4 linked regions of the Homo sapiens genome follow. The protein of the gene in region 4 interacts with the protein of the main gene of each other region in a pairwise test. Each region holds a gene or a part of one and is shown on either strand. Other genes may lie near its edges. The genes, in order: COL8A1, KCTD9, SYT17 and POF1B.

Region 1 (7,028 bases), on a different chromosome or scaffold from region 4:
GACTAACTTTTAGCCCTTAAAAATTACCCTAGGGAGAAATGATGTTTTTTGTTTTGTTTTGTTTTTTGTTTGTTTGTTTTTTCTTTTCTAATTACACAGTCCTTACTTTTTTGGCTCTGAAATGACAGCATGCTTTTAGATTAAAAAAAACAAAAAAGAAAAAGAAATTAAAATCACTGTATTAAACAAGAAACAGAGCCAGTAAGCAGTGTCTAGGAACAGAGCCACTAGAATTCTCTCACTTTCTTTATGAGTCAGAGGCGTTGTCATAGGAAGTTTATTTTTATTTTTTTCCTCCATGATAGGACAAGACATCATGAGAAGCAGCACAGGCGGGCAGGAAGACCATGGACTTTGGACTGTGACCTGGATAGAAGAACCTGCTCTGCCTCTTCCTAGCTGTGTGGCCCTAGGCAATTTGCTTAACGAGTGGAGGCTTAGTTTTTCTCATCGTTAAATTGGGAATAATAACACCCTTCTTGTAGGGTTGACATGGGGAATATAGATAACGGGACTAGCACAATATCTGGTCCTGTTAGATAACAAATAGCTTTTATTATTATAACCATTAATGATGTGTTTGAATTTCTCCCTTCTCCTTTAGATGACTATGAGCTACTTATTTTCTGAAAGCAGAGGGTGCTCAACTGTGCCACTTACGGGATACTGACCTCCAGGCACTAACTTTGTGAAGTGGAAAGATAATTCCCAGAGTAATGTCCTAAGAGAAATAGTAAATTGTATGGAGTGGGAGGTCTGAGTGTCATAGATAAACTAAGTAATTCCTCATTCAGTAAATTACACCAGAATATCAGTGTGTTCCTCCTACAGAAATTAGCTCCCTATTGATGGTGAGAAAGCAAATGCTCAAAGAAAATATTTGGCCAACGATCTTGGTTAGTTAATGATAGTAAAGATAAAGCAGGAAATTAACAGCTCAGAGACTGATGAGCTAGTTCAAAGAATTATCTAGGCTCCTTGTTTATTGAACTTATTGCTCATTGTTGGCCGCTTCTCTCTATACAGTATCCAGAGAGTGGGATGGAAAGGAAGAGACAACTTCAATTTGTCCAGTGTTCTAAAGATTTTTTGGGTAGAAGTGGAGGTTGAAGATATGAGAGAGAGAGAGAGAGAGAGAGACTTGAATAATATTTCTGGCATTCTTGCTATTATTGTAATAAAGAATTGAGCCATAGAACAAAGGCATGTTATCTGCTTCTTTTGTTCCTGTTTCCCCTGGGTTTTAGAAATCTCTCTACATATCTTAGAGTGACATTCAGTATGTATTACTTAACAACTAGCAAGACTGAAAATACCATGTTCTGACTGATCTTGAAATAATGCTGCAGGAAGTGATTCTTAAACTATTCTTAAGCTGTTCCGTAGAATATCAGTCCCAGGAGATGCGCTCAGGCAGGGTAGATATGTCATCAAATGTTTAAGGAACACTCGATTGTAACATCTTTGAAGGATGAAAATATATATAGCATATAAAAATTTCTGTGAAGCCATACAGTGAATAAAAATGTTTAATATTGTTTCATTGAGTGTTTCTAAAGCTTATTTGACCACAGAACTTTTTTCTGTATAAACACTGATGAATCCCAGGTAGCAGTGTTTTGAAATGCACTTTGGAAAATGTTGAAGCAAGGGATGCAGAGATTTTATACAAAAGTCATTATTAAACAGTTATCTTTCTCCAGTTAAAATAGAGTTTTTAGATCAGAAACCCTGTATTGTATGTGAGAAATTCCCCTTTGGCTGGTCTCAAAATACAGATTGGTAAGAATATAAGCCTTTTAAGACTCTTTAAGCCATTTTCTAATTATTATTTGTTTTTTTACTTTCCACTTACCCTTGATCTTGTTTGGCCTTTTGAGATATGTGGGATTGACCTCTGTATTCTGAGAAACAAAAATGCTCTTGCTATATCTTGGAAGGTTATGTGGCTACTTGACATTTTATCCCATTTTGACTGATTTTGTATAAATACTTTGAGCCCTTCCTAGTTATTGTAAGTATAATCCATTTACCGTACTAAATTAGTAACCGTAAAATGCATGCTTAATTAGTATCTTTCTGAAAAATACTTGACAGGACCTCACATGTCTCTAAGTGGTAAAGAAGGTAGTTATTTAAAAATTGTTCTGCTTAAGATAAATAAATTAAGGCACAGAGACGATCAGTGACACGCCCCTTGCCCCAGAGAGAGTCAAGGTGTTTTTGAAATTAAAACACTGAAGATTTTCTGGTGATTCACAAGTCACATGCACACCAACTCCATAGCTTCATCTCTATGGACACAAAAAATGATCTTAGAGGATTGCTGTTTTGCTGTGAATGTCATAATTTTTACTAAGCAAGCAGCTCTCCTCTGGTGTGCCAAGGATTTTTTTTATGGTCCTAATTGATCTCTATCCCCCAAAGGGTTCTGAATTATGCAAGTGTCTCAAGTCTTAACAAGCCATCCCCACACAGCTGTGCAATGGAAATGTTCAACAGAAAGGTATTCACTTCAGTCTAGGCAAGACCCTGGCTGCTCCCTGGAGAGACCCAGATTTAGGGGAGCAGGTTCTGGACCCTCTGGGTGGAGAAGCCTATTTGGCCCATTTCTGTCTTTTTTTCTCCCAGCTCCCTTCCCCTTACTCCACTGACAGGGAGGGTCTAGTCACCGCAGGCTTCCTCAGTCTTTGTGCTTGTCTCTCACTGACCCCCAGCTGCCAGGCTTTGTTTATTACTGAATTGAGCATTTAGATTCAGTCTTGGCTGGTGGTAGCCTTGGAAAGAACATTTTCTAAGATTGTTTTAGTTTTCTTTCAAATAAACTTCCACAAGCCCGGACATTTCAGGCATTGCTAATGCCAGAAATGTGGGTGATTTATTCTTAGAGGCTTAAATTAGGATTTTTTTTTTTTTTTTAAAAAGAAAACTAACAATGTGATCTACTACAATGGCATACATTTTAGCCATTGGTTGTAAGGGACACTTTGCTCTGCCTTCGATCCGAAAAACTTAAATCTAAAGGCCCCTTCTGGGACCAGATCAGTTTCTATTGAGACACCCAGCCCCTGGCTCCCTCTACTGGTGAACAACCTCCCTCTCCATTTGGGCAGCAGGGGATTGTAATTAACTGGGGGCTGGAAAAGGGACTAGACATGTCCTTAAACTAGAACTGTGGATCCAATAGCATATTTTTGCCACAGATCCCCTTTCTTTCCTCATTCTTCCAACCTCAACAATCTTGGCTACCTAACTCACAAATTCTTAGCTCCCCCTAGTGCCCTCCTTCATGTACTTTTTGGCTTTAATCTTATGTCTGCCATTTAACAAGAAGTCGCTTGTTTGGATTGATAGCATTGATGAACACCATGACTCCTGGACTTTAAGACTGGGCAATCGCTAAGTAGATCATTAAAGAAATACAATAATGTACAATCATCACTGAATTTATGAATGAAGTTTAGGCTTATCGTCAGAGTGTAGACACCATGCTAGTTGGAAGAAGATCCTAAATGGGATGTTGGCTTGAAAATGCGTCCCACCTGCCCCATCACAGTGCTCTTCGGTCAGCTGTTAATATTTGAAATCCTCCTACTGAACTGAAGGCAGCTGCAACTTAACCCCTCTGCTGCCATAAACTAGCCATAATTGCCTTAGAACACAAAGCCTCAATTATGCAGGCCATTGGCCCAGACTTCCAAAAAGCAGCTGTTTTATCTAGCTAACAGAGGGGACTAGAGAAGCTCCCCAATAGGCTAGATACATGTTATTTCCTAGAGAAGTTGACAGCTGACACCCACACCCAGGCCTATTTAGTTAGAGTTGGAAAAGTAGCACATGAAGTGATTGTCTTCAGTCTCAGCACATCAAATGATCCAATGCCTAAATATCCTGTGATGTAAACACATCAATTGGAAGCTTAAGAGGGACAGTCTTCAAGAAAGACTTACTTAAAAGAATGTTTTCACAGTGATGCTTAGCCATAGACTGTGTTAAATTTAACATATAATAGATCGATTTTAGAAACACACTTACTATTTCGGAGATATGGAAATAATTGTCAGGCATGCTTCAGAGGAAAGTGAAGAAGCATCTGGGCTAACATCTGTCTGCTTATTCAGGGTAAATTGTTTACAGAAACAATACAAGAATATTCTTTCCTGCCTTCGTCACTTTCTATGATGGAGTGACTTTATGTGTTACCAATAATTGTGTTGTTATTTTAGCAGAGAACATTTCAATGACTTGACATCCATGGAGTTATTATCCTGGGTCAGAGTCAAGTCTAAAAGGAGGTGAAATGAGGTTCCTTTCCCACTTGAGGGCCAGTCAAATGATAAGAAGAGTTTTAATAGATATGGTACTTATAAAGCTTTCACACCTGTGTCATCCAGGCTTCAATTAGTGTTGTATTTAAAGAACCCTGACTCAAACAGAAAGTCATCTCTCAAGCATTTGAGAGGGTCTGGTTTTGGACAATGCTATTAAAATCTCTTGTAGCATTTCAAAACTCTTGGAGATTCTCCCTCCTCTGTTTCAGAGGAATAAACTCTCTTAGCTTCACTGTCTTGTCTCTATACTCTTAGTCCCTTGATCACCTCTCCCCTCTGCCCCTCTGTTACAACAAATCTCATACCTACACATTCTGACTGATGTGTCCCTTAATGTTTTTCCTGATTATCCATTATGGGTATTTTGCTCTTTCTCTCATTAGAGGCCGAGGAAGGTACAAAATGGTTAAATTGGCAACACTTTGTCTGTTGGGTGGAAGAGGAGAGTTACGCTGTAAATCTCACATTCTAATTCATTTGTTCTCTCAAATGAATATTGGAACTAGATCTTAAGCCTCCTGTAAAAAATAATACAGTTTCTAGAACTCAAGTAAATATGGGAAGAACTAGTGAGAATATTGCAGACAGGAAAACGGCTTAGCCATTGCTAAGGCTAAAATGAACTCTTCTAGATTTCCCAAAGCAAGGGAGAATCTTAAACTCAATACATTTGAGACCTGAGTCACTGTATGTCTGTATAGACTGTTTTCTACGAAGTAAAATTTACTTTGTAAATCCATTACTTTGTAGAAAGTAGTTTTATAGACTATATTTTCTACAAGTAAGAAAGGAGTTTAGGAAAATGGATATTTTATACTTAGCTTTTTTCCCCATTCATTCACCCACTCAACACAGATTTACTGAGCAGCTACTATGTACCATATCCTGGGCTGGTTAAAAACATACCATCCCTGTGATGGTGATGACCATTGACTTCACTCTTCACAAGAATTTATGTCAACGTGTCCTAGACATTTGGTAGTAGAGGTATAGCTGTAGTCCAAACCTCTACCAAGCTATGGTTTCTGAGAGCCCTGTATGTTAAGTGCCTACGGAATGCTCAGCATAGTCAAAGACACCTTAGATTCACATTATACGAGGAGCCACACTGCAGTTATTCAAGATTAAGCACTGGCTGGAGAAACTGGCTGTATGAACTCCAGCCTTGGGTGTGCTGTACTCATCTGGGTGGCCTGGGGAAAGACATTAATCTTTCTGATCTTTTGCACCTGTAAAATTAACTTTTAGTTACAATTAGCTCCAAGGTCTTTTCCAGCATTTATCTTTTATGATTCTCTAAAGTTTTTTTAATTTCCAAGAAGTTATAATAAGTACTGGATAAGTAAAATGGCTTTGAAACCTCATCTCAGATATTCTGTTGGAGGCAAGTAGCAATTTTAAATTACTTTCTTCTAGGTATGTGAATTAAAGTTTAGAAAAATGTGAAGCTTTTACATTTGATAGGGTGAAAATTTATATCCTATTTAAGAGAAGTATGAGGAAATTTTTGGTAATGAGAGAAGCCACAAGTATGAGTGGTTCTTTAGAAACTTGTTCTATGAGAATTAAAAAGAGATTTTTTCCAGGGAAAGAACAAAGGAAATGTCACAGAGGGACTATGACTGCATCTGCACATCCTGAAAGGTTTGCTGAAGGAGAGAAGGGTCAGTTTTTGTTGTCCAGGAGGGACGATGGAAGTGAGCCCCAAATAAATAGAGGACACCGAAGGTGAATTGTCAGGTGTGTGTTCATATTTTACATAGTCAGCTAAAGTTGTTGCTTTTGCTCTTATCCTACATTGAGAAGTTAGAATTCATTATTTTTATTTTTATTGATTACTCTGTGATCAGTTTTGGTGAACACTTTTTGTTTTATTCACTTCAGTTTGATCTGATGCAATTTCAATGGCTTCATGAATTTGAGTACACACGACTTCAGGCTTGTAGACATTCTAACCTTGTGTGACTCCCTTTAACCCCATTCCTGCAAATCTGCTTGAGGAAAAACTATGAAGAACCTTCTCCCTCAAACAACAAATGGAGTTACTAAAGTGATAGAGGGATCTCTCATTAGCAGCTTTTCTCTGTTTGTGTTGAAATGTGGTTAATGCTCATACTTCTCACTCCTTATCTCTCTAGAAAGGGGAAGTTTAATAGAGCTATAATTTAGTAGTGTGGGGTGTAACCTGCTGTTAATATCTGCCAGGTCACTGGAAGATCTTCTTCATTATATTCTTAGCATTTTGTGACAACTTTTGAACAGGTTCTTTAAATAAATGTGTATTCCCAGATGCTTTAGGGATTGAGATATCCTTTTCACACAATGCTAAAAAGAAAGATTCTCTAAATTCCAAAGGGCATTCATTCTCCCCTTAATTCTCCTCTCCTCTCCTTTTGGTTTTCTTTTCACTCAATAGTTAGACCAGTGCACCTTTCACAAGAATACACTCAAGTTTCAAGATCTGTACCTTCTTTAACTTATGTACATGTATGTTTATAGGGGTCTGGTTGAAGAGAAGGAGGTCAAGGCAGAAACACCTAGCTCCCAGAGGGTTACTTGGAGGACCAGAGGTTTTAGGAAATACGGTGTGTCTCAATCTGTCTGCAAGTTTCCATACCAAAGTGAGTAACCATGGATAAGGAGTAAATTGCTGTTTCTAACTTTTAACTTACAAATAAGCACTCAACATTACACTTT
Region 2 (7,028 bases), on a different chromosome or scaffold from region 4:
ATGAAAACATGCCAGAAATACCCACAAAATAGATCAAAATTATAATCTAATATTCCAAAACATGCTAAAAGAAGTTTATACAAGGTATAAAACAACAATATAAACCAGGATTTAAAAATTCAGAAATGAGTAGCAAGAACTCCCAAGAGAATTAGAAATAAAAGAAAAATGATTTTTAAAGACTAAAGCAAAAGAAATACAAGAGTGATTAAACACAATAGACAATGACTTAAGGGAAAGAAAAGGTAAAAAAGAGAATAGCTTGAAAAATTAAAAAGAAATGGTCAGACGTGGTGGCTCATGCCTATAATCCTCTGGGAGGCCGAGGCGGGTGGATTGCTTGAGCTCAGGAGTTCGAGACCAGCCTGGGCAACAGGGCAAAACCCCAAAACCCCATCTCTACAAAAAATACAAAAAAATTATCCGGGCATGGTAGCACACATCTGCAGTCCCAGCTCCTGGTTGGGGGCTGAGGCAGGAGGATCACTTGAACCCAGGAGGTTGAAGCTGTAGTGAGCCAAGATCATACCACTGCACTACAGCCTGAGTGATGAAGTGAGGCCCTGTCTCAAAAAAATAAATAAAATAAAAAGAAAGGAAAAGAAAGTTTCAAACATAAAAGACAAGTGTAAAAGATCCACCCTACATACAATAGAGTCCTGAAAGAAGGAAATCAAATCAAAGTGAACAAAATAAAAATGTCAACTTCAAGAGAACTGTACTGAAATTTTAAAATACATACACTTGAAACTATATATTGAAAGGATCCATCACATACTGAGAAAACCAATCCAGAACAACTCAGAACACCAATAAATATTCTACTAAAATTACTGTACTTTAAAGAAAGAGAAATATCCTTTGGGTGATCTATGAAAAATAATCACATAAGAAAGATCAGATTTTTTGAGACCAACACCTCAGGCCAGAATAAAATGCAGTAACATATTTAAGATATTCAAAGAAAAATAATGTGAACCAAGGATTTTTCAATAGCTTCACTGAGGTATAATTAACACAGAACAAGTTACACATACTAAAGTTTATAATTTAATAAGCTTTGACATATAATTTTATACCAAAATTATATAAAGATGGTGGATGGCAATGGCATCTTGCCATTGGAAGATGTCACCGAATATTGTTCTCATAGTATCTTGGAGAGAAATCTACTAGAGAACAAGTTTCAGATAAACACTGGAAACATAACAAAAGGACTGGAGGTAAGTGTACGCTTGAAGAAGTAAAACTAAATGAGTGTATAAAGGGAGACACTATAATATACAATGGCTATATGTTCCGACAATTCAGAAACAATACAATTATTTTTAAGTAAGGGGAGAAGGGATTTAGCATATGAAAAACATTTAACTGTTTTTAGTAATTATATTGGTACTGAAAGTATTGAGTTTGTTACTCTGACATTTTTAGATGTGTTCTGTATGGGGTAAAGTAAATGAGTAATTATGTGACATTATAATTCTATTAGTCTCCATGTCCCTGAAAGTCAGGACTATTGATATAGAAAAAGGAGACACAGATGTAAGACAGAAGAGGATAAGTAAAAACCTTATAATCCTTAATATAAACTTTAAGTACTACTATGAAGCCATGAGTTATTTCATCTATCCATATTTTGTTATATATGACATATAAACTTTATATCCTATAACATACATTATATACAAATTTTATCTCTACCTATATATTTTCAATTCTGTCCACCAAAAGGCATAGCAACAATAATGAACCCAATAGCGAAGAGCCTCCCTAGCACCCAGATTTGTCTTGGAATGACACTTCCCACTAAAAAAATCAAGGCTTGTTGGAAAAATGTTGATCCAGGTCTGAGACAGGAAAAGGTTTTAAGATGAACACCAGTTATTCCAGATAATAAGAAAGCCATAAAATCCAACAAGGTTTGTTAAAAAGACCCGAAGAGATTTCCAGTGGCAAAAAATTAAGACCATCTGAACATCAATAAATGCAGAGGATGAAAATATACCAAATATTTTTAAATCCATGAGTTAATAACAATAAAAAAACCTTAATTGATCATTTTTTATTGTGTTTGTATGCAGTGGACCAATTAAGTGACCATTGCCTGCCAGTCACTGTTAGGCCAATGGATAAAAGAAGATGAGAAGTTCTTGCTTACAGTTTTAAGGTAGAGACAGACAGACAAGAGTATGCACTTACTTCTAAGTTGACAATTGCCTGTGCAACAATCGTGAGAACTACTTCCACTCACCAAATGCAATTAGTATGATGCTTTAAAAAATACTTAAATATTCAGAGTGTGGACTGTATGGATCTAAATAAATCAAATACTTTATCTTCCTTTCGGCCTTTTCTTTTGAGATATACAACTATAAGCTTTCTTCCAAATCAAAGGGTAGTGTGTGTGCACACCTGTGTGTGTGGTTGATACCAAGTCATTTTTTGGCTGATCTGATCACTGTGAAATACTGTCAAACACTACTTACGCAAGCAATATTTACTCACAAATATGTAATACAACACGTAGAAAAATTTTGACATTCACCATCAAAGAAAAAATTTTCAAACAAAACAATTGTTTCTAAGATCAAAACTACCTTACTATGTTACAGTTAATGAATATGTATACCTCCAGAGCATTTTAACGGCATGTAAAACATGCATCTATAATAAACTACGATCATATAGTAAAAAATTTACTTTAACATACCCAATGCAGAATCAAAAAGTGTGAAGATTTGAATACAGCCATAAGATCATTTTTAATGTTTAAGCTTAATAGCCCCATTTAAAATAATTGTCATTCCATCTTTTTTTTTTTTTTTTGGCAGATAAAATTGGCTTTTAAAGTCACTTACCAATAAATGGCTCTCCTTCACAAACAAACAAAACATCATCATCCCTGGGGAAATCAAAATTTAAAAAGCTACCATCAAAATCTAAAAATCACATTAATTATCTGTTGCTTATAGGAACTATTCCTTACAATTATATAGACAATAGGTTTTGCTATCAATCTAGACTGCAAAGAAGCTAAGTTTCCAATGCTTTGTTTAACCCCTTGAACTTAACTGTCTTTGAATTTAAATTCAAAAATAAGATCTTGCACATGAAAGTACTTTTGAAATGTGGGGAAAAAAATCTCCTTACACAAACGATGTTGAGTTCAGCTTTCTTATCAATTGAGAATGAATAATTATGCTGAAAGGATAGATTAAAGTCACAGCCAACTATTCTTTTTTTCTTTACATTTTTTACCCCTAAATCATCAGCTGTTGTGTGCTTTGGAGATGAAATAAACTGTCATATTAAATCTAGGAAAAATATAGCTGGAAGTAACTCTACTGTCAGTGTTTACCCACTACACATCCACCATACACCCAAATGTAAATGGCTGCACATAACCCAGAGTTCTGGACAATCAGTGCACATCCTCTTCCTCAACCCATTACCCCAGATACTGTATTGTGAACCAAAAATGAATAAACAGATATCTTATAGCTCAGAAGGCTTCAATTATAACCTTCCATTGTAGACGTTTTTATTTCCTATAGGACATCACAGGACACGTTAAATTTTTCTAAGAAGCAGAGTTCGTGTTTGTTAAGAAGAAAGTTAGGTTGATGAGGATCATCATCCAACAATGTGACTCAGTTTTCCTTAGAAACTGAAAGAAGCTGGGAGATACATATTGAAAAACTAAGAAGTTATCCTAATTTATTTGGATTTAAAATGTAGTGTATAGTATTTCCTACTTGTTCACCATGCCAGTTTACTTTTTCAGATTAGTATAAAAATCTGTTTTCATTAACAAAACCCAACTAGCTGTATGACCTGAGTGAGTCCTCAGCTTCACAGGTAATTCGTTTCCTCATCTGTAAAATGAAGGGTCTAGAACTGATTAACTGCAAAGCAGTATATTATACTGAAAGGTCATTTTGATCTAGATTTATACAGAGACTTTGTATATCATTATAGGTTAAAGCATCATTATCTTCACATCACTGATAAAAAAAACTCATGTTTTGCCAATTAAATGGTATAACTCAGGCAAAGCAATGATAACATAAGTGGCATAGTCAATACTTAATTTGTGTTCCCTTTACCATCTTCTTTGTTAAGCATCTTCCTGCTCCAAAATTCTCTGACCTCATGAAGATGAAGTAAGGTGAACTACACACTTGTTTTAAAGAGATAAATCTGCCTGAGATATTTAAGGTACAAACATAAGCCTATAATTATGGTGGATCACTGGTGATATCACTACTTAGAATTCTATCATATTTATAAAGTTTTTACAAAATCTGGCCTTTGTAATGATTATAAAATGCAAAGCATTCTTAGGAAATGATTAACAAGCAGGCGCATATAAAAGTGAAGAGATGAATTAGATTTTTAATGTTAAAAACTGCACGTCTTACTAGATCCTTCTCTAGTACCACAAAGAAGAAATTCCTCATAGCTATATATGAACTATGCAGAAAGACTATCAGTATACTGAAATGTACTAAGGGTTTTCTAGCTGATCAATTCACCTTAAGCCCAAATGATTTAAATTCCAAAGAGCAAATTCTAGGTAAACACTTGCCAAAATCCTGTACTCTTAACAGTGATTAAATTACTGCTTAAGGGAAACAGCATAGCACCAAGAAGTTGAGGCACACTGTTGACAGCTTATAAAAAGGTGAAGGTTACCTGATCAAAGCAATATCATCAATCAGTCCACCTTTCCCATTATACACACTGGTGGCTTTTATGCCGAGTTTACTGCTGGCCACAGAAAGCAAATCAGATAAAGTTCCATATACAGCAACCACCTGTAAACACACCAGAATAATATGAACAATTTCTTTAATACATGTTATCCCCCATAAGTTATAAACTACCACACTAGAACAGTGCTAAAAAGATTATCATATAAAAGGAGACTTCAAAAGGTTCTTAACAGTGCCCCCTTTTCTTCCATGACTCATTTATTCACTTGGTGCCTAATATTGCCGACTCCTCAACTAGAACATAAGAAATCATCTCTGACCAAAACAATCTACAATCCTAAGGTGTGTTAAATAGCGCTCCAGTTGTGAAGTAAGATAGACCTACACTTCGATCTAGAGTCTGACATTTTCTAGCTGTCAACTTGAGTCAACCTACTGATGCTTCTGTTGCTTTAACTAGAAATGAAGAAAATAGTAGCACCTACTTCAGAAGGTATTATGAAATGAGTTCATGCATAAGAGCTTAGCAAAGTGCCTGAGACCTAGTAAGTCCCTATTATGTTGTCCTTTTATTATTTATTTATTTGAATGGTTCATCCTTAGAACAGGAGTGTGCTGGTACTGTTTATTATATCATTAACGACATCAACTACCACAGAAAAGATAACTTCTCACCTCATTTATTTAATTCTTCACTAACTAAGCCAGATTTTAGCATCTAACATTTAAGAACAGAGCAAACAGCTGGGTGACAATGAATTGATGTGTCCTGCTGTGAATCAAGCAGTCTGATATATGTGCAAGATACATGCAACTGTCTAAGCAGGGTGCTGAGAATTTCTACATGTAAGTGAATTTTGTGCCCTGGTCCTAACTGTAACTATGGGTTCCCAGCGACTGAGTTGTGCAGTTGCACCATTATCAGTTATGACCTCTGAAAGTTAGGAATAAAAACTAGGTAAGGGTCGGGCGCAGTGGTTCATGCCTGTAATCCCAGCACTTTGTGAGGCTGAGACGGGCAGAGCACTTAAGGCCTGGAGTTTGAGACCAGCCAGACCAACATGGAGAAACCCCATCCCTACTAAAATACAAAAATCAGCCAGGTGTGGTGGTGTATGCCTGTAGCTACTCCAGAGGCTGAAGCATGAGAATTGCTTGAACCCAGGAGGCAGAGGTTGCAGTGAGCCAAGGTTGCACCACTGCACTCCAGCCTTTATGACCAAGCAAGGCTCTGTCTCCCCGCTAAAAAAAGAAAAATAAGTAGGTGAAGAGCTAAACACGAAGCACAGTCAGCTAGCTCATGGACGTCCCAAGATTTATTATGTCAAGATGCCATATGAAGTGAGCACTAAGGCTGGTCCTCTGTCCACCAGTGACTGGAATAGAGTGGACAGTTTCTAGTTAAATAAATACAGTAAATGGAGGACATGGAAAAAGCTGCTCGATAACATACGAGTGTGCAGTTTTTCAAAAGCAGAGTACTCAGATTCTAACTTTTTTCTCTTGGATCAGAAGGATGAAAGCCAGAAGAGTGCTGGGGCATTTTGGAAAGTGTTGAAGGCAAGAAAAATTTAAGCGGAACCAAGTGCATTATAAAAAATAATGTACAACCCAAGTGTCCATAAGCAGGTAATTGCATAAATAAAATATGGTATATATATACAATGGAATATTATTCAGCAATAAGAAACAATGAGGCCAGGTACAATGGCTCATGCCTGTAATCCCAGCACTTTGAGAGGCTGTGGCAGGTGGATCGCTTGAGCCCAGGAGTTCGAGACCTGCCTGGCCAACATGGTGAAACATGGTCTCTACAAAAAAATACAAAAAGTAGCCAAGCATGGAGGCACATGCCTGTAGTCTTAGCTGCTTGGGAGGCCGAGATGGGAGGATCACTTGAGCCTGCCAATTCAAGGCTGCAGTGAGCCAAGATCACGCCACTGCACTCCAGCCTGGACATGATGGGACGGAAAAGAAAAAAGGAAAGGAAAAAGAAAAGAGAAAAGGAAAGGAAAGGAAAGAATAAAGAAAAAGGAAAGGAAAGCAAAGCGAGAAGAGAAGAGACATGAATTCTGACACATGCTGCAACATGGATGAACCTTTTTGACAGTATGCTAAATGAAATAAGCCAGTCACAAAAGGATAAATATTCTATGATACCACTCACATGAAAGTACCCAACACAGGCAAATTCATAGAGAAAGAAAGCAGAATAAAGGTTACCAAGGCATAGATGGGAATGGAGACTTATTTCTTAATGGTTACAATTTCTGTTTGGGATGATGACCAAGTACTGGAAATAAACCGTGGTGA
Region 3 (7,121 bases), on a different chromosome or scaffold from region 4:
GAAGTGGTAAGGGAATAGCAACAGCTTGGGAAATAGTCAAAGGCACTTATCACAAACTCTCTAAAGCCAAAACTCAAACCATACACAGAACAAGACCCAAAGGTGCTGAGGGGCCACGCAACAAGCTGAGCCAGGAAGTACTAGAGTCCTAGTCTCACCATCGACTGATCATGTGACTTGGGCAAGACAGGGGGCCTCTCTGAGCCTCGGTTACCTCTTCTTTAGTGGAAAGGCTACTCTATACCTCAAAGGCGTGCTGTTGAGGTGGGACAGGACACTGACTATGCAAATACTTGCGTGCGGTCCAGCTGAAAAATAAAATGCACCCTTTCTGTGATGAGAATTAGGTGATTGTCAAGACCTAGTGGAACCCAGTAGGCACTGGGTATTGTCCCGGCAGGTACAGCAGGGCACAAAACAGCAAAATATTATACCCTCATAGGGCTTGCATGAAAAAGTGCTTTAGAATGTTAGGATAAAGTGATACTTTTTCATAATAATCTATGACCATTTTCTGAATACAGGGAAGCATTTCCTAGACATGTGGTGGTCAAAAGAGGCCATTTATGAAACCAAAGTGAACAGAGACAAGGTCACCTCATGGCCCTGCTGAAAAACAGCCTCCCCAACTTTCTCAAAGCCCAGGTGCAAGATGAGTGTCAAGGAGCAGAGAGAAAGCAAAGAAGATGAAAGAGGGTGCCCTGACATTCCCAGGCATGCTGAGTCTTTCTGGCATTGGGTCTCCTGGGCTCACGTGTTTGACACCGATGGAAGAGAACCAATTCACACCAGAAAGAAAGAGGAAGAAAGACAACCCATGCATTCTAAACAGAGGTTGGCAAACTAAGGCTCGCAGATCAAAACCAGCCCCGCAGCCTGTTTTGCTACAGCCCTTGAGCTAAGAATAATTTGTGAGTTTTTAAAAGGTTGAAAAAAAAAAAAGATGAATGCCTCTTGACTCGTGCAAAGTATACAAAATTCAAATTTTGGTGCCTGCAAATAAAGTTTTATTGGAACACAGCCACGCCCACTCATTTACTACTGTCCATAGCAGTTTTGGTGCTATAGTCAGAGTGGAATAGTTGTGACAGAGACCATGTGAGCCTCCAAGAGAAAAAAAATAGTATCTGGCACTTTACAGGACAACAAAGTTTAACACCTTGTTCTAGAAGGAAAACCAACATCACTGGGTCATCGCCATATGAGATGCTTAACATATCTACCACAGTCCCCTCTTGAGATCCCACCTTGACCCCTAAGCAGCTATGTGGCCTTGGGCAAGTCACTTAATTTCTCTGTGCTGAAGGCGGCCATTAAGAACTCCAGGAGCCGGTAATCATGTTCATTTCTCACTAAATTGCGCACCCAGAGGGGCAGGAACTGTGCTGTTTTCATCACTGTATCCCCAGTGCCAGCACTTAGTAGGCGGTCGCCCAAGTGTTTGTTGGGCGACTACTCAATAGCCCCTGGACAACATTCAGCACACAGTGGGTGGACAGTAATGTGACCTTCATTGAACTTGAAGAGAAACTGGCGATTCCACGAAAGGGAAGCCAATTCAGGGAATCTAAGGCAGGAGATGAATGGAAGAGGCTCCGCCAGGTGACACAGCACAGAGTTCCCGGCAGGCTGAAGCGTCTGAGGACACGATGAGGGGATATGTGACCCAGAGGGGAATGGGAGGACCAGCAGCACCCCCAGCTGTGGCTGAGGGGACAAGATGTGAGCCAAGATGCACCCTGGACGTGGGAGTCTGTAAGCTTCTCTGCCCAGCTCAGAGGCGCCAGCGCCAGAAGCAAGCAGCTCAACGGGTCTCACTGCGGGTCTGCCTGCTTGACCTTGGCGCTGACCTGCGGTCACTTCCCTTCTTGCAGAGGAGAAAGGTCTTTTCACCAAGAAGCCCGGCCCACCCCTCCGCCCCCTCCCCCCAAAAAAGGCTGCTTAGAAATTATTTCAGAATTATTTCAGCCCAAGGATTCTTGGGGGACGTTTCTTCAAGGTGAAGAGGGTCCACATCTCCCAGACCCCAATGCAGCGGAGTAAAGTAACAGGCTCCCTTCTCTTCACCAGCGCGCCTCTGGCCTCTGGGTGTCCCCCACCCCTCAGCACCCAGTGCCCAGGAGAGACGACGTCCTTGTCCCTCCTGGTCGGAACAGCTGCCTCAGGCTCGCTCCGCCGGCCAATTAGCCGGAGCCGTCACCACGGCAACGGCAGCTGGCGGGCCGGGTGGCTGGCGCGCCCCGGGCCGCCCTCCCCACGGCCCCTCCCCTGGGGTGGGGTGCCAAGGAGAGGGAGGGGGCAGGGGAGAAGAAAAGTCCGCCCCACCCCCCATTCCCTCCCCAAGAGGCAAGGGCGCGCGTTGCAGAGTACACATAGGACCCTCCATCCCGGGGTTTGGGGGTCCCCAGTCTCTCCTCCCGGGGCGCACCCCTGTTGCTGCACAGGTTGCCCGCGCACGGGCACCCTTTTTCTCGAAGCAAGTTTGTGGGAGCCTAGCCGTGGGCCCTCCCTTCCGCGCGCTCCCAGCCGGAGGGGGCGCGGCACCCCCTACCCGCACCCCGGACCTTGCCCCCAGCCTCAGCCCTACCTGGATGTACGCCATTTTCGCCCGCGCGCACTCACTCCGGCCCGGGCATGGCGCCGCCACGGCCACTTTGCCCTCGCCAACAGCGGAGGGGGAAGAAAGCAAAGGGGGAAAGGAAGAAAAAGGCAGCCGGTGGCCCCAGACGTGACTGGCGTGGCTGATGAGCGGCGCCCGCCCCTCCGCCGGCCGCCCCGTCCTTGCCTTTCCCTGCGTTCCGGCTCTCGGAATCGGGGCCGCCTCCCCGGTTCGGAGATATCGGGCGCCCAGGGCCCCCGCCTCGGCCTCCCTCGCTGTCCCGTGCTCCCCACCGAGGCGCTCCCCAGGCTGGAATAAGGCCGGGGCGCCTGGGCAAGCAGCCCGGGGCAGCTGCGGGGACTGCAGCGACCCCAGCGCAGGCGGGGCCGGAGACGCCGGGGCCGGAGCGCGCAGGAGGCGGGGGAGGGGATGGGAATGGGGAAGGGGGTGGGAGGGGGCGGTACACAGGTCAGCCCATCCTGCTGGCACGGGGGCTGGCACCTACCGAAAGCAGCGCCCCCGGGGCAGCCGTGGAGCCGAGGGGACACAGTGCAGCCTGCCATGAAGTCTGCAGCAGGGAGGGTCCTTCCCATCCAGCCCTCTCCCCAAACTGGGTTGGAAAAACTTTATTCCCGCCCCACCCGACGCGCCTAGCACGGTTGCGGTGAGGCTTGCAGAGGCTGCGTGGATGGGAGCCTCAAGTTAAGGTGGGCGTAGGGCGTCCCAAACGGAGGTGCTGCGTCCAGGGCTGCAGGGGGCGCGCGGAGAGAGCGGAGCGCCCCTTTACCCTAAACCTGCCGGAGTTGCGCCCTGGACGCAACAGGTCTAGCGCGGGGCGGCCCGGCAGCGCCACCCAGCGTCGTGCCCGGCCTCGTGCGCTCCTCTGCCCACGGGCAGGCGGCCGCCAGCGAGCGTGCGCCCCGGGGCGTGTCCACCGCCGCCCTCCTGCCTGTCCTCGTGGCTGGGGCGCCCTGGACCCAGAGGCCTCCATCAAACCTCCCAGCCCAAGGCCTCTGGCTCTCCACTCAGAGATTCGAGGTGGAACATTGCCCTCCGCTGGATTTCTTATTTTATTTTATTTTATTTTATTTTATTTTATTTTATTTTATTTTATTTTATTTTATTTTATTTTTGACACAGGGTGTCACTCTGTCACCCAGGCTGGAGTGCACTGGGGTAATCTTGGCTCACTGAAACCTCCGCCTCCCAGGTTCAAGGGATTCTCGTGTCTCAGCCTCCCGAGTAGCTGGGACTACAGGCACATGCCACCACGCCCACTAATTTTTGTATTTTTGGTAGAGAAAGGGTTTCACCATGTGGGCCAGGCTGGTCTCGAACTCCTGGCCTCAAGTGATCTGCCTGCCTCGGCCTCCCAAAGTGCTGGGATTAGGGGCGTGAGCCACTGCGCCGGGCCGGTTTTCTTTTTAATATGCCCAGTCATCTCCTGTTGCCGGACACCAGCTTATCAGCATTTTAATTTTAACCTCCCAGTGCCTCTTTTTCCTCAGTAAAAACAGGAGAAAATCTCCACCCTGCCTATCCTCCAGGGCTGATTTGTGGGAATAAATGAGAAAATGAATATGGGAGTAACAAAAGATGGATATTCAGATGCATATATTTTTTGTCTAAAAATCTAGCAGACCTATACATTTTTTAGTATGATATATTTAGTTTGTAGCATATAGCACGTAACGCATATTGAGTGCTTATGATTCTGCAGGCATACACGCCTCAACACTTCACAAGCGTTATTTCATTTCAACCTGCAGTACCTTGATCACTCCTATTAGGTAGCACCTGTCCAGCCAGAGTAGGCACTCAGTAATTGTTTTTGTTGCCTTATTCACTCTGCTTCCTGAGGGAGGTGCTATGATTATCTCCAATTTATGAGGGACTGCAGCCCAGACAGGTAAAGCCTCTATGAAGGCCTGACAGCTGGTAGCCCAGGGCACTGACATTTGAACCCACAAGTCCAGCAGTGAACCCAAAGTGGCCACTCCTAACCACTTTGTGGTATTTATCCACAATCTTTCTCCAGCACTGATGGCAAGGCATGCCAGGTGGGGAGTGAGCCTCACAGAGGAGGATGCCTATTGGAACGGGTGCTCCTTGGGGGCACTTGAGGGAGTTCGAGGAATTTGCTAGGTGTTCCCATAAGTAAAAATAGTTAACCCTTTTTCACCTGAGGTCAGGAGTTCGAGATCAGCCTGGCCAACATGGCGAAACTCCGTCTCTACTAAAAATACAAAAAATAGCCGGGCATGGTGGCAGGTGCCTGTAATCCCAACTACTCAGGAGGCTGAGGCTAGGAGAATCACTTGAACCTGGGAGGCGGAGGTTGCAGTGAGCTGAGATCGTGCCACTGCACTCCAGCCTGGGTGACAGAATGAGATACCATCTCAAAAAAAAAAAGTTAACCCTTTTTGAGGTCTGTGTACCAGGCACTGTTTTCAGCCCTTTACACAAATTTTGATCTTTTAATTCTCTGATTACCATGAGGTAGGCACAAGTACTATCCCACTCTTTAGGTGAGAAAAAAAGAGGCATTAAGAGGTGAAGTTGGCCAGGCATGGTGGCTCATGCCTGTAATCCCAGCACTTTGGGAGGCCAAAGTGGGTGGATCACTTGAGGCCAGGAGTTCAAGACCAGCCTACAAAAAGTTTCTTTACAAAATACAAAAATTAGCCCGGCATTGGTGGCTCACACCTGTAGTCCCAGCTACTTGGGAGACTGAGGCTGGAGAATCGCTTGAGCCCAGGAGATTGAGGCTATAGTGAGCTGAGATCACACCACTGCACTCTAGCCTACATGACAGAGTAAGACCCCATCTCGAAAAAAAAAAAAAGAGATGAAGTCATTTGCCCAAGGCGTGTCATGCCAGGCCACTGTTAACTCCTTTAGGAATAGTACCATGTCCAGGAGGCCAAAAAAGAGACCTAGAGACAGTGAACGAGACACAGGGTTTATTGAGGGAACTTACATACAGGGACAATCCAGTGGCAGCTGGCTGGACAGGAGAACCTCTACTGTTTATATAAAAGCATGCAGTTTATGTAGCATTTTCACTTAGCACCCTCCACCTAGCAACTTCCTTTTGGCCCTTTAACCCAAAACAAAGGGCCTCGATTGTTTATATAAAAAACATGTTTATATAAAAAGCATGCAGTTTATATAGCATTTTCGCTTAGCACCTTCTATCTAAGCAACTTCCTTTTGGCCCTTTAACCAAGGGTTTTGGCTCTTTAACCCAAAACCAAGGGCCTCAATTGCCTGTACAGCCTGCATTCCAAGGGATAGGCAGGGGACCCAGACATCCTTCATAGATAAGGAGTGAATCTCCAGGTTGGCCACTCCCGGATTCCTTAGCTCTGAACTGTGAATACACATTCTTCTTAGACCATAGGGTCGTTCGCAGGGTAAGCTAAGTTCAATTATTGCCGTCAAATGTGTCTGCCCTGCAGGGTGTGTGTGGCTTCCAGGAGCTGGGATTCAAACCTAAACCTGAATCCTTTCCCTAGCCCCTGCACCATGTTGCCTAATAATGCCTGATCTTGGAGGAGGGGGATGACCCCGTCCCCAGAATTTTTTGGTACCTTAATCCCTTATGACCTGAAACTGTCCAAGAATACTAAGCACCTCTCGAGCAAAAGAAGAGGTTATTTAAAATGCGGATAATAGAACCTGCCTCTGGTATTATGAAATGCTTTAAATGTATGCAAAGCACCTGGCAAAATAGGTGTTTGATAAATGCTTGTTGAATGAGCAAATGGGTTGCAACAACAGCTAACATGGACACTTTCAACTCTCAGACAACTGGTTATTATGATTGAGTGTTAAGCCCTTCACATTTGTTTTTGTTTCATCCCTACTGGAGCCTTACAAGGTGGGTACTGTCATGGTCCCCAGTTTACGGGTGAGGAAACTGAAATCCTGAGACGAGAAGCAAAGTGAGTTGCCCAAGGTAAACAGGTGACAAGAGACAGGGACAGGACAAAAATGCAGGTCTGGTTAGCAATAAAGTCTCAACTCATCATGGCTGCACCATCGTCAGATGAAAGAATGGACGAGAAATCAGTTTAAGTCCTTCATCAGGGGAGTGTCAATGAGTTCCAGGATCCCACTGCTTTGCAAGCCTCTCCTGCCTTTCACGGGGACATGAAGTCCAGCTTTTCAATGTAACTTGGACTCAGATCAAGGCTGTGCCTGCAAAGCTGGCACCTTTACAGATCTCAATGAAGAAGGCCCCAATCAGGGAGGTAGACAAATGCATGGAATTATATGTGACCTGTGGTGTGATAAAGGGAGGCTCAGGGGACTGTGGGGTTACAGGTGAGGGGCCCCAACCTCGTGTGATGAAGGATCACAGAAGGTTTCCCAGAGGGGCTGACATTAAGCTGAGTCCCAAAGAACCAAAGATGGGGAGTGGGGCTTATTTGGAAGGTCCATGAACTTAGAAAGAAAAAAAGTTGCATCACCATTGTCACCAACCTCCTTCTGAAATTTAGTGTTTCCTTCCATTATG
Region 4 (7,028 bases):
CATATGCCTGATTATTTACATGACAACTAGTAACTGAGCAAGAATTTGGGACAGCCATAGGAGTAAAGATCAGGAAGAGGGTAATCCTTAGAGACTACTTACAATTTCCTAGGAATTCTCTCTGCTCAGACATCCAGAGAATTCATCTAGAGTTTTTTCAGTCATTTATTTATTGCACAAACATGTATTAAGGTCTACAACAGCTTTTCTCATTGACATGTTAGTACATTAAATAAATGCATGAACCTAGATTTTTAGTATTTCTACAATTCTGGTCACCCAACAAGACAAATAATTGTGTCCCATATGTACTTTATATCTAAAATAGATAAGATTATCTGTTTTTCTGAGAGGGCTTTCAGCCATTAGAAATACCCAAAGCCACTCAATTCTCATATGAACAAATTTTTCCATCATATTTAATTCTGTCTTGATTATATCTCATAACTCCAATGTGCCAGTAATTGTGCATATGAAAAGCTATCAATGTAGATTAACACCAATAAAAGCATCAGTTTACCTGCTGCTGGTGATTATTTGCTCTCACTGATGCCAAGAGTTCTTCGTACTCTTTTAATTGAGTGTCTTTGAATGATAAATCTTTCTCAAGTCTCATCTTGTCATTTTCCAGTGACTAGAAGCATAAATTATTTATTATGATTCAGAATTGCAAAAACTTAACAGTCACATAATACAAAGACTTGCTTACCTTGGAAGATTTAAATAAGCACTTGTTTCATTTGTACTTGCTTAATAAAGCAGAATTCTTAAAAGTTAAGAAAATACGGGATAGGAAATGATTGAAACTTCTAAAACCTTCATTGAAAGAGACATTTTGATGGACTAACTATACATGAAATGAAGCACAACCCTCTGAAATGTTTTAATGTTTTCCTCCAATCTACAAAGAGTCCTCGTTAATCCCAGCGAGTGGTAAATTTTTAAATTAGAGTCTAAATATGTTCATCATAACCCAGAAACAACAAAACTACTCCAAAGTCCTCAAGGCATTATTCAATGTGTGGAAAGCATTCTGAATGTATCTAGCTGATGGCACCAAGAACACCAATTAAAATAGAAAATGGAAAAAAATTAATTTTTTGGAGAAAAATGTTTTCAAGTTATTATATTTGAATGGAAATTCAGAGTATGCTTTATAATTATGAAAAAGGGGGAATTTACCTCCAATGAGTCAGATTATTTTAACTTTGCAGATGACTCTCTGGCTTTAAGCATTAAATTGCCTTAGTGGTAAACTAAATGATAAGTGCACATCCAACATTCTTTCATTTATACTTTGGATACCTCTTTTCTCCTCTCTCAATGCCAATTAACTGTTTGAAGAAAATAATTTAGCTTTGTCTGAATAAGCATAATATTGTGCTATATTAAATTTTAAAAACATATACTGGACATCTTTATTTCTGTATTAGGAAGCTAGTAACTAGAAAGGCTTTGGAAAAAATCAAAATAAATCTTACTGTCATATCATTTTGAAGATGTCCAAGCTCCTCCCGTATGTTGCTAAATGTGGACAGCACTAGTCGGAGTGACTTATCAGACATACCCCTCATCTGCAGGAAGAAAGGATTAATGGTTTAGTTTTATTAACATTTGAAAATAGGCAATATAAGTGAAAGTTTTTTTTTTCCTACTAGCAAACTTATTAATAATTTTACTTTGATATGGCAAATTAGAAAGGTGATATAAGGCATTTTGTCAATAGTGTGTTTAAGTAATCCAAATAATATTCCTGAAGATAGCATAGCTAGTATTTATAACAAATATTTATTATTTTTTCCATGATAAAGTATCATCTTTGTCACAAAGTAGAATTCTATCAGCAAAATTTAATTTTTACATTATTCTTTATTTAAAAGATTAGAAGAGATGAGACAGTCAATAATCAAATAATAAAATGAATCTCCCTAAGTGTATTGCCAACTGCCTGAATTTTGCCTGAGGTGAGAAGAATATAATTATAATTAAGTTTAACTTTAAAGTATAGAGCTATCTAAATATTTTTGGTTTTTTTTGTTTTGTTTTTGTTTTTTTACCAGAGTCTCACTCTGTCGCCTAGGCTGGAGTGTAGTGGCATGATCTCAGTTCACTGCAATCTCTGCCCCCTGGGTTCAAGCAATTCTTCCACCTCAGCCTCCCAAGTAGCTGGGACTACAGGTATGCACCAACACACCTGGTGAATTTTTGTATTTTGAGTAGAGAACGGATTTCACTGTGTTGGCCAGGCTGGTCTCGAACTCCTGACCTCAAGTGATCCACCAGCCTTGGCCTCCTAAAGTGCTGGGATTACAGGTGTGAGCCACTGCACCTGGCTTATCTCAAATTTTAAAGAGAGGGGAAACTCTTTTACTAGATTATTCTTATTTCTTTAAAGAAAAATGGTTTAAAAAACAGACAACTTCAGCTTCTGGGAAGATGGAGTAAAAATACTTTCCACAACCAATCAGACGTTGTTTAAGGTTTAACTTTGTAACTTCAGCCTCTGATTGGTCACTTTCTGCAACCAATCCGACTGATAACGGGCCACTACTTCATTTACATAGAGTGTACACCAAGTTACCAATGGGAAACCTCTAGAGGACATTTAAACCACATAAAATTATATAACTGTGCACTTGAGCCAATTGCTCAGCCCACTCCCACCCTGTGGAGTGTGCTTTCATTTTCAATAAATCTCTACTTTTGTTGCTTCACAAAAAAAAAAAAGAAAGAAAAAAGAAAAAAAATACTTTTCCCTAGCCTTCCTGTTAATTGCAGCTAAAAACCCTGGACATTATATATAAAACAAATATAAAAAGACCCAAATTGGTGAAAAGAGAAATGATTGGTTAGGAATCTTGGGACCTGAGAAATGACACAGCAGTGAGTTCCTGGATTTTCTTTTTGCTTCATATATTAGATCAGTGTTGGGCAAGCTGGTGATCTAGTTACATCAATGGACAACAAAAGTCCTGAGAAAAGCCTTCTCTCTCTAACCAAAGGACCATGAAAGGGTCAGCCTAGCAGGACAGAAAACTTTTAGATAGTAACCACTCTATCTTAGCCAAACACCACAGAAGAAATTGCAACTCTACTTCCACACGGACCACCAAAGGCCAAGAAGAGAGCTTAGACTGCCCCCTTGTCAGGCTCTAGGGAGGTACACAACACCATTCACTGGGATGGTGTCAGAAAAGACAGAGTGAAGAATGGTGCTTTCATTCCTACTGGCCAAAAATGAAATTCCATGCACTGTGATGTCAGTTGAGACTGTGAAGGGAGCTTGGGCTTTCACCCTATCGCATCAAGAGAAGCTGAGTGGGGGAACCTCAACTTCCACCACCAGCTGGCAGTAATAGGTAGTGCACACACTTTCTCTGATATTTGAATATTTGAATGAGACCCAGAGAGTCACAACATAAAAATGGCCAGGTCTCCCATCCAAGTACTAGCCAGGCTCAATCCTGCTTAGCTTCTGAGATCAAACAAGATCAGACATGTTCAGGGTCAATTGAAAATCACTCATAATTCCAAGAACAACAAAAATCTCAACCAATAAGAAAAAACACTTAATTGATGACAACATCAAGATAATAGAAATGTTAGAATTATCTGATAAAGTGTATAAAACAACCATCATAAATACTTCAACAAGAAGTTGCAAGGAGACTGTAAAAACACATTGTCTCAATGACAAAATAGAAAGTCTCAGCAAATAAATAGAAGACATAAAGAATACCTAAATGGAAATTTTAGAACTGAAAAGGACAGTAACAAGACAAAGAAACAAAAACCAAACCAAAACAACAAAGCTCTCAAGGAGTGGGCTAAAAAGCAGAATGGAGAGAACAGAGGAAAGAATTAATGAACTTAAAGATAGAATAAAATAAAGTATATAATCTGAATATCAGAAACAAATAGATTAGAAAAAATTAAACAGAGCTTAAGGGTTTGTGGGTGTACACCACATATCTAGCTTTCATGTTCAGAGTCCTGGAAGGAAAGGAGAAAGAGGATGGAGCTGAAAAAATATTCAAAAAAATTATGGCTGAGAAGTTTCCCAAATTAGTAAAACCTGGTAACATACATATTCAAGAAGCTGAGCATATCCCAAACAATATAAACCCAAAGAAATCCATTACCAGACAAATCAGAGTCAAACTTCTTAAAACTAAAGACAAACTAAAAATTTTCAAAGCAGCAAGAAAAACATTAATTATTGGGAATAACAATTCAAATGACAACAGATTTCTCATTACAAATCATGAAGCCCAGAAGGAACTAGGATACTATTTTTTAAGTACTAAAAGAAAATAATTGTCAACTGTAAATTCTATATGCAGTGAAATTATCCTTTAGGAATGGAGGGAAATTCACATTTTCAGATGAGGGAAAATGAAAATAATTTGTTACTAGCAGACCTACCCTTAAAGAATAGCTAAAAGAAGTTGTCTAAAGAGAAGAAAATCATAAAAGAAAGAATTTGGAATATTAAGAAGGAAGATATAGCATTGTAAGCAAAAATATGGTAAATACAATAAGTTTTCCTTCTTTTCTAGAGTTTTCTTTTTTTATTATACTTTAAGTTCTGGGATACATGTGCAGAACGTGCAGGTTTGTTACATAGGTATACACGTGCCATGGTGGTTTCCTGCACCCATCAACCTGTCATCTATCTACATTAGGTATTTCTCCTAATGCTATCCCTCCCCTAGCCCCCCACCCCCTGACAGGCCCCAGTGTGTGATGTTCCCATGTGTTCTCACTGTTCAACTCCCACTTATGAGTGAGAACATGAGGTGTGTGGTTTTCTGTTTCTGTGTCAGTTTGCTGCGAATGATGGTTTCCAGCTTCATCCATGTCCCTGCAAAGGACATGAACTCATCCTTTTTAATGGCTGCATAGTATTCCATGGTGCGTATGTCCCACATTATCTAGTCTATCATTGATGGGCAATTTGGGTTGGTTCCAAGTCTTTGCTATTGTGAATAGTGCTGCAATAAACATATGTGTGCATGTGTATTTATAGTAGAATGATTTATAATCTTTGGGTATATACCCAGTAATGGGATTGCTGAGTCAAATGGTATTTCTAGTTCTAGATCCTTGAGGAAGCGCCACACTGGTTGAACTAATTTACACTCCCACCAATAATCTAAAAGCGTTCCTATTTCTCCACATCCACTCCAGCATCTGTTTTTTCCTGACTTTTTGATGATCGCCATTCTAACTCACGTGAGATGGTATCTCATTGTGGTTTTGATTTGCATTTCTCTAATGACCAGTGATGATGAGCATTTTTTCATGTTTGTTGGCTGCATTAATGTCTTATTTTGAGAAATGTCTGTTCATACCCTTTGGCCACTTTTTGATGGGGTTGTTTGTTTGATTCTTGTAAATTTGTTTAAATTCTTTGTAGATTCTGGGTATTAGCCCTTTGTCAGATGGATAGATTGCAAACATTTTCTCCCATTCTGTAGGGTGCCTGTTCACTCTGATAATAGTTTCTTTTGCTGTGCAGAAGCTCTTTAGTTTAATTAGATCCCATTTGTCAATTTTTGCTTTTGTTGCTATTGCTTTTGGTGTTTTAGTCATGAAGTCTTCCCCATGCCTATGTCCTGAATGGTATTGCCTAGGTTTTCTTCTAGAGTTTTTATGGTTTTAGGTCTTACCTTTAAGTCTTTAATCCATCTTGAGTTAATTTTTGTATAAAGTGTAAGGAAGGGGTCCAGTTTCAGTTTTCAGCATATGGCTAGCCAGTTTTCCCAGCATTATTTATTAAACAGGGAATCTTTTCCCCATTGCTTGTTTTTGTAAGGTTTGTCAAAGATCCAATAGTTGTAAATGTGTGGCATTATTTCTGAGGCCTCTGTTCTGTTCCATTGGTCTATCTCTCTGTTTTGGTACCGGTACCATGCTGTTTTTGTTACTGAAGCCTTGTAGTATAGTTTGAAGTCAGGTAGCATGATGCCTCCAGCTTTGTTCTTTTGGCTTAGGATTGTCTTGGATATATGGGCTCTTTTTTTGGTTCCATATGTAATTTAAAGTATTTTTTCTAATTCTGTGAAGAAAGTCAATGGTAGCTTGATGGGGTTAGCACTGAATCTATAAATTATTTTCAGCTGTATGGCCATTTTCAAGATATCGATTCTTCCTATCCATAACAATGGAATGTTTTTCCATTTGTTTGTGTCCTCTCTTATTTCCTTGAACAGTGGTTTGTAGCTCTCCTTGAAGAAGTCCTTCACATCCCTTATAAGTTATATTCCTAGGTATTTTATTCTCTTTGTAGCAATTGTGAATGTGAGTTCACTCAAGATTTGGCCCTCTGTTTGTCTATTATTGATGTATAGGAATGTTTGTGACTTTTGCACATTGATTTTGTATCTTGAGACTTTGCTGAAGTTGCTTATCAGCTTAAGGAGATTTTGGGTTGAGACGATGGGGTTTTCTAAATATACAATCATGTCGTCTGCAAACAGAGACAATTTGACTTCCTCTCTTGCTATTTGAATCCCCTTTATTTCTTTCACTTGCCTTGTTGCCCTGGCCAGAACTTCCAATACTATGTTGAATAGGAGTAGTGAGAGAGGGCATCCTTGTCTTGTGCCGGTTTTCAAAGACAATGCTTCCAGCTTTTGTCCATTCAGTATGATATTGGCTGTTGGTTTGTCGTAAATAGCTCTTATTATTTTGAGATACATCCCATCAATACCTAGTTTATTGAGAGTTTTTAGCATGAAGCGGTGTTGAATTTTATCAAAGGCCTTTTCTGCCTTTATTGAGATAGTCATGTGGTTTTTGTCATTGATTCTGTTTATGTAATGGATTATGTTTATTGATTTGCATATGTTGAATCAGCCTTGCATTCCAGCGATGAAGCTGACTTGATCATGGTGGATAAGCTTTTTGATATGCTGCTGGATTCAGTTTGCTGTATTTTATTGAGGATTTTTGCATCGACGTTCATCAGGGATATTGGCCTGAAATTTTCCTTTTTTGTTCTGTCTCTGCCAGATTTTGGTATC

Evidence for each region.
Region 1: the proteins of POF1B (region 4) and COL8A1 interact in binary tests that used the Homo sapiens proteins (3 or more experiments, as listed by UniProt).
Region 2: the proteins of POF1B (region 4) and KCTD9 interact in binary tests that used the Homo sapiens proteins (3 or more experiments, as listed by UniProt).
Region 3: the proteins of POF1B (region 4) and SYT17 interact in binary tests that used the Homo sapiens proteins (3 or more experiments, as listed by UniProt).

The regions. Positions count from the first base shown.
Region 1 is NC_000003.12:99,641,588-99,648,615, reverse strand, and holds part of COL8A1 (collagen alpha-1(VIII) chain precursor), read right to left. Parts: intron 1-7,028. UniProt on the Homo sapiens protein: Macromolecular component of the subendothelium. Major component of the Descemet's membrane (basement membrane) of corneal endothelial cells. Also a component of the endothelia of blood vessels.
Region 2 is NC_000008.11:25,441,434-25,448,461, forward strand, and holds part of KCTD9 (BTB/POZ domain-containing protein KCTD9), read right to left. Parts: intron 4,818-7,028; coding exon 4,696-4,817; intron 2,903-4,695; coding exon 2,859-2,902; intron 1-2,858. UniProt on the Homo sapiens protein: Substrate-specific adapter of a BCR (BTB-CUL3-RBX1) E3 ubiquitin-protein ligase complex, which mediates the ubiquitination of target proteins, leading to their degradation by the proteasome.
Region 3 is NC_000016.10:19,164,128-19,171,248, reverse strand, and holds the start of SYT17 (synaptotagmin-17), read right to left. Parts: upstream 3,010-7,121; 5' UTR 2,603-3,009; coding exon 2,588-2,602; intron 1-2,587. UniProt on the Homo sapiens protein: Plays a role in dendrite formation by melanocytes.
Region 4 is NC_000023.11:85,306,643-85,313,670, forward strand, and holds part of POF1B (protein POF1B), read right to left. Parts: intron 1,575-7,028; coding exon 1,482-1,574; intron 635-1,481; coding exon 521-634; intron 1-520. UniProt on the Homo sapiens protein: Plays a key role in the organization of epithelial monolayers by regulating the actin cytoskeleton. May be involved in ovary development.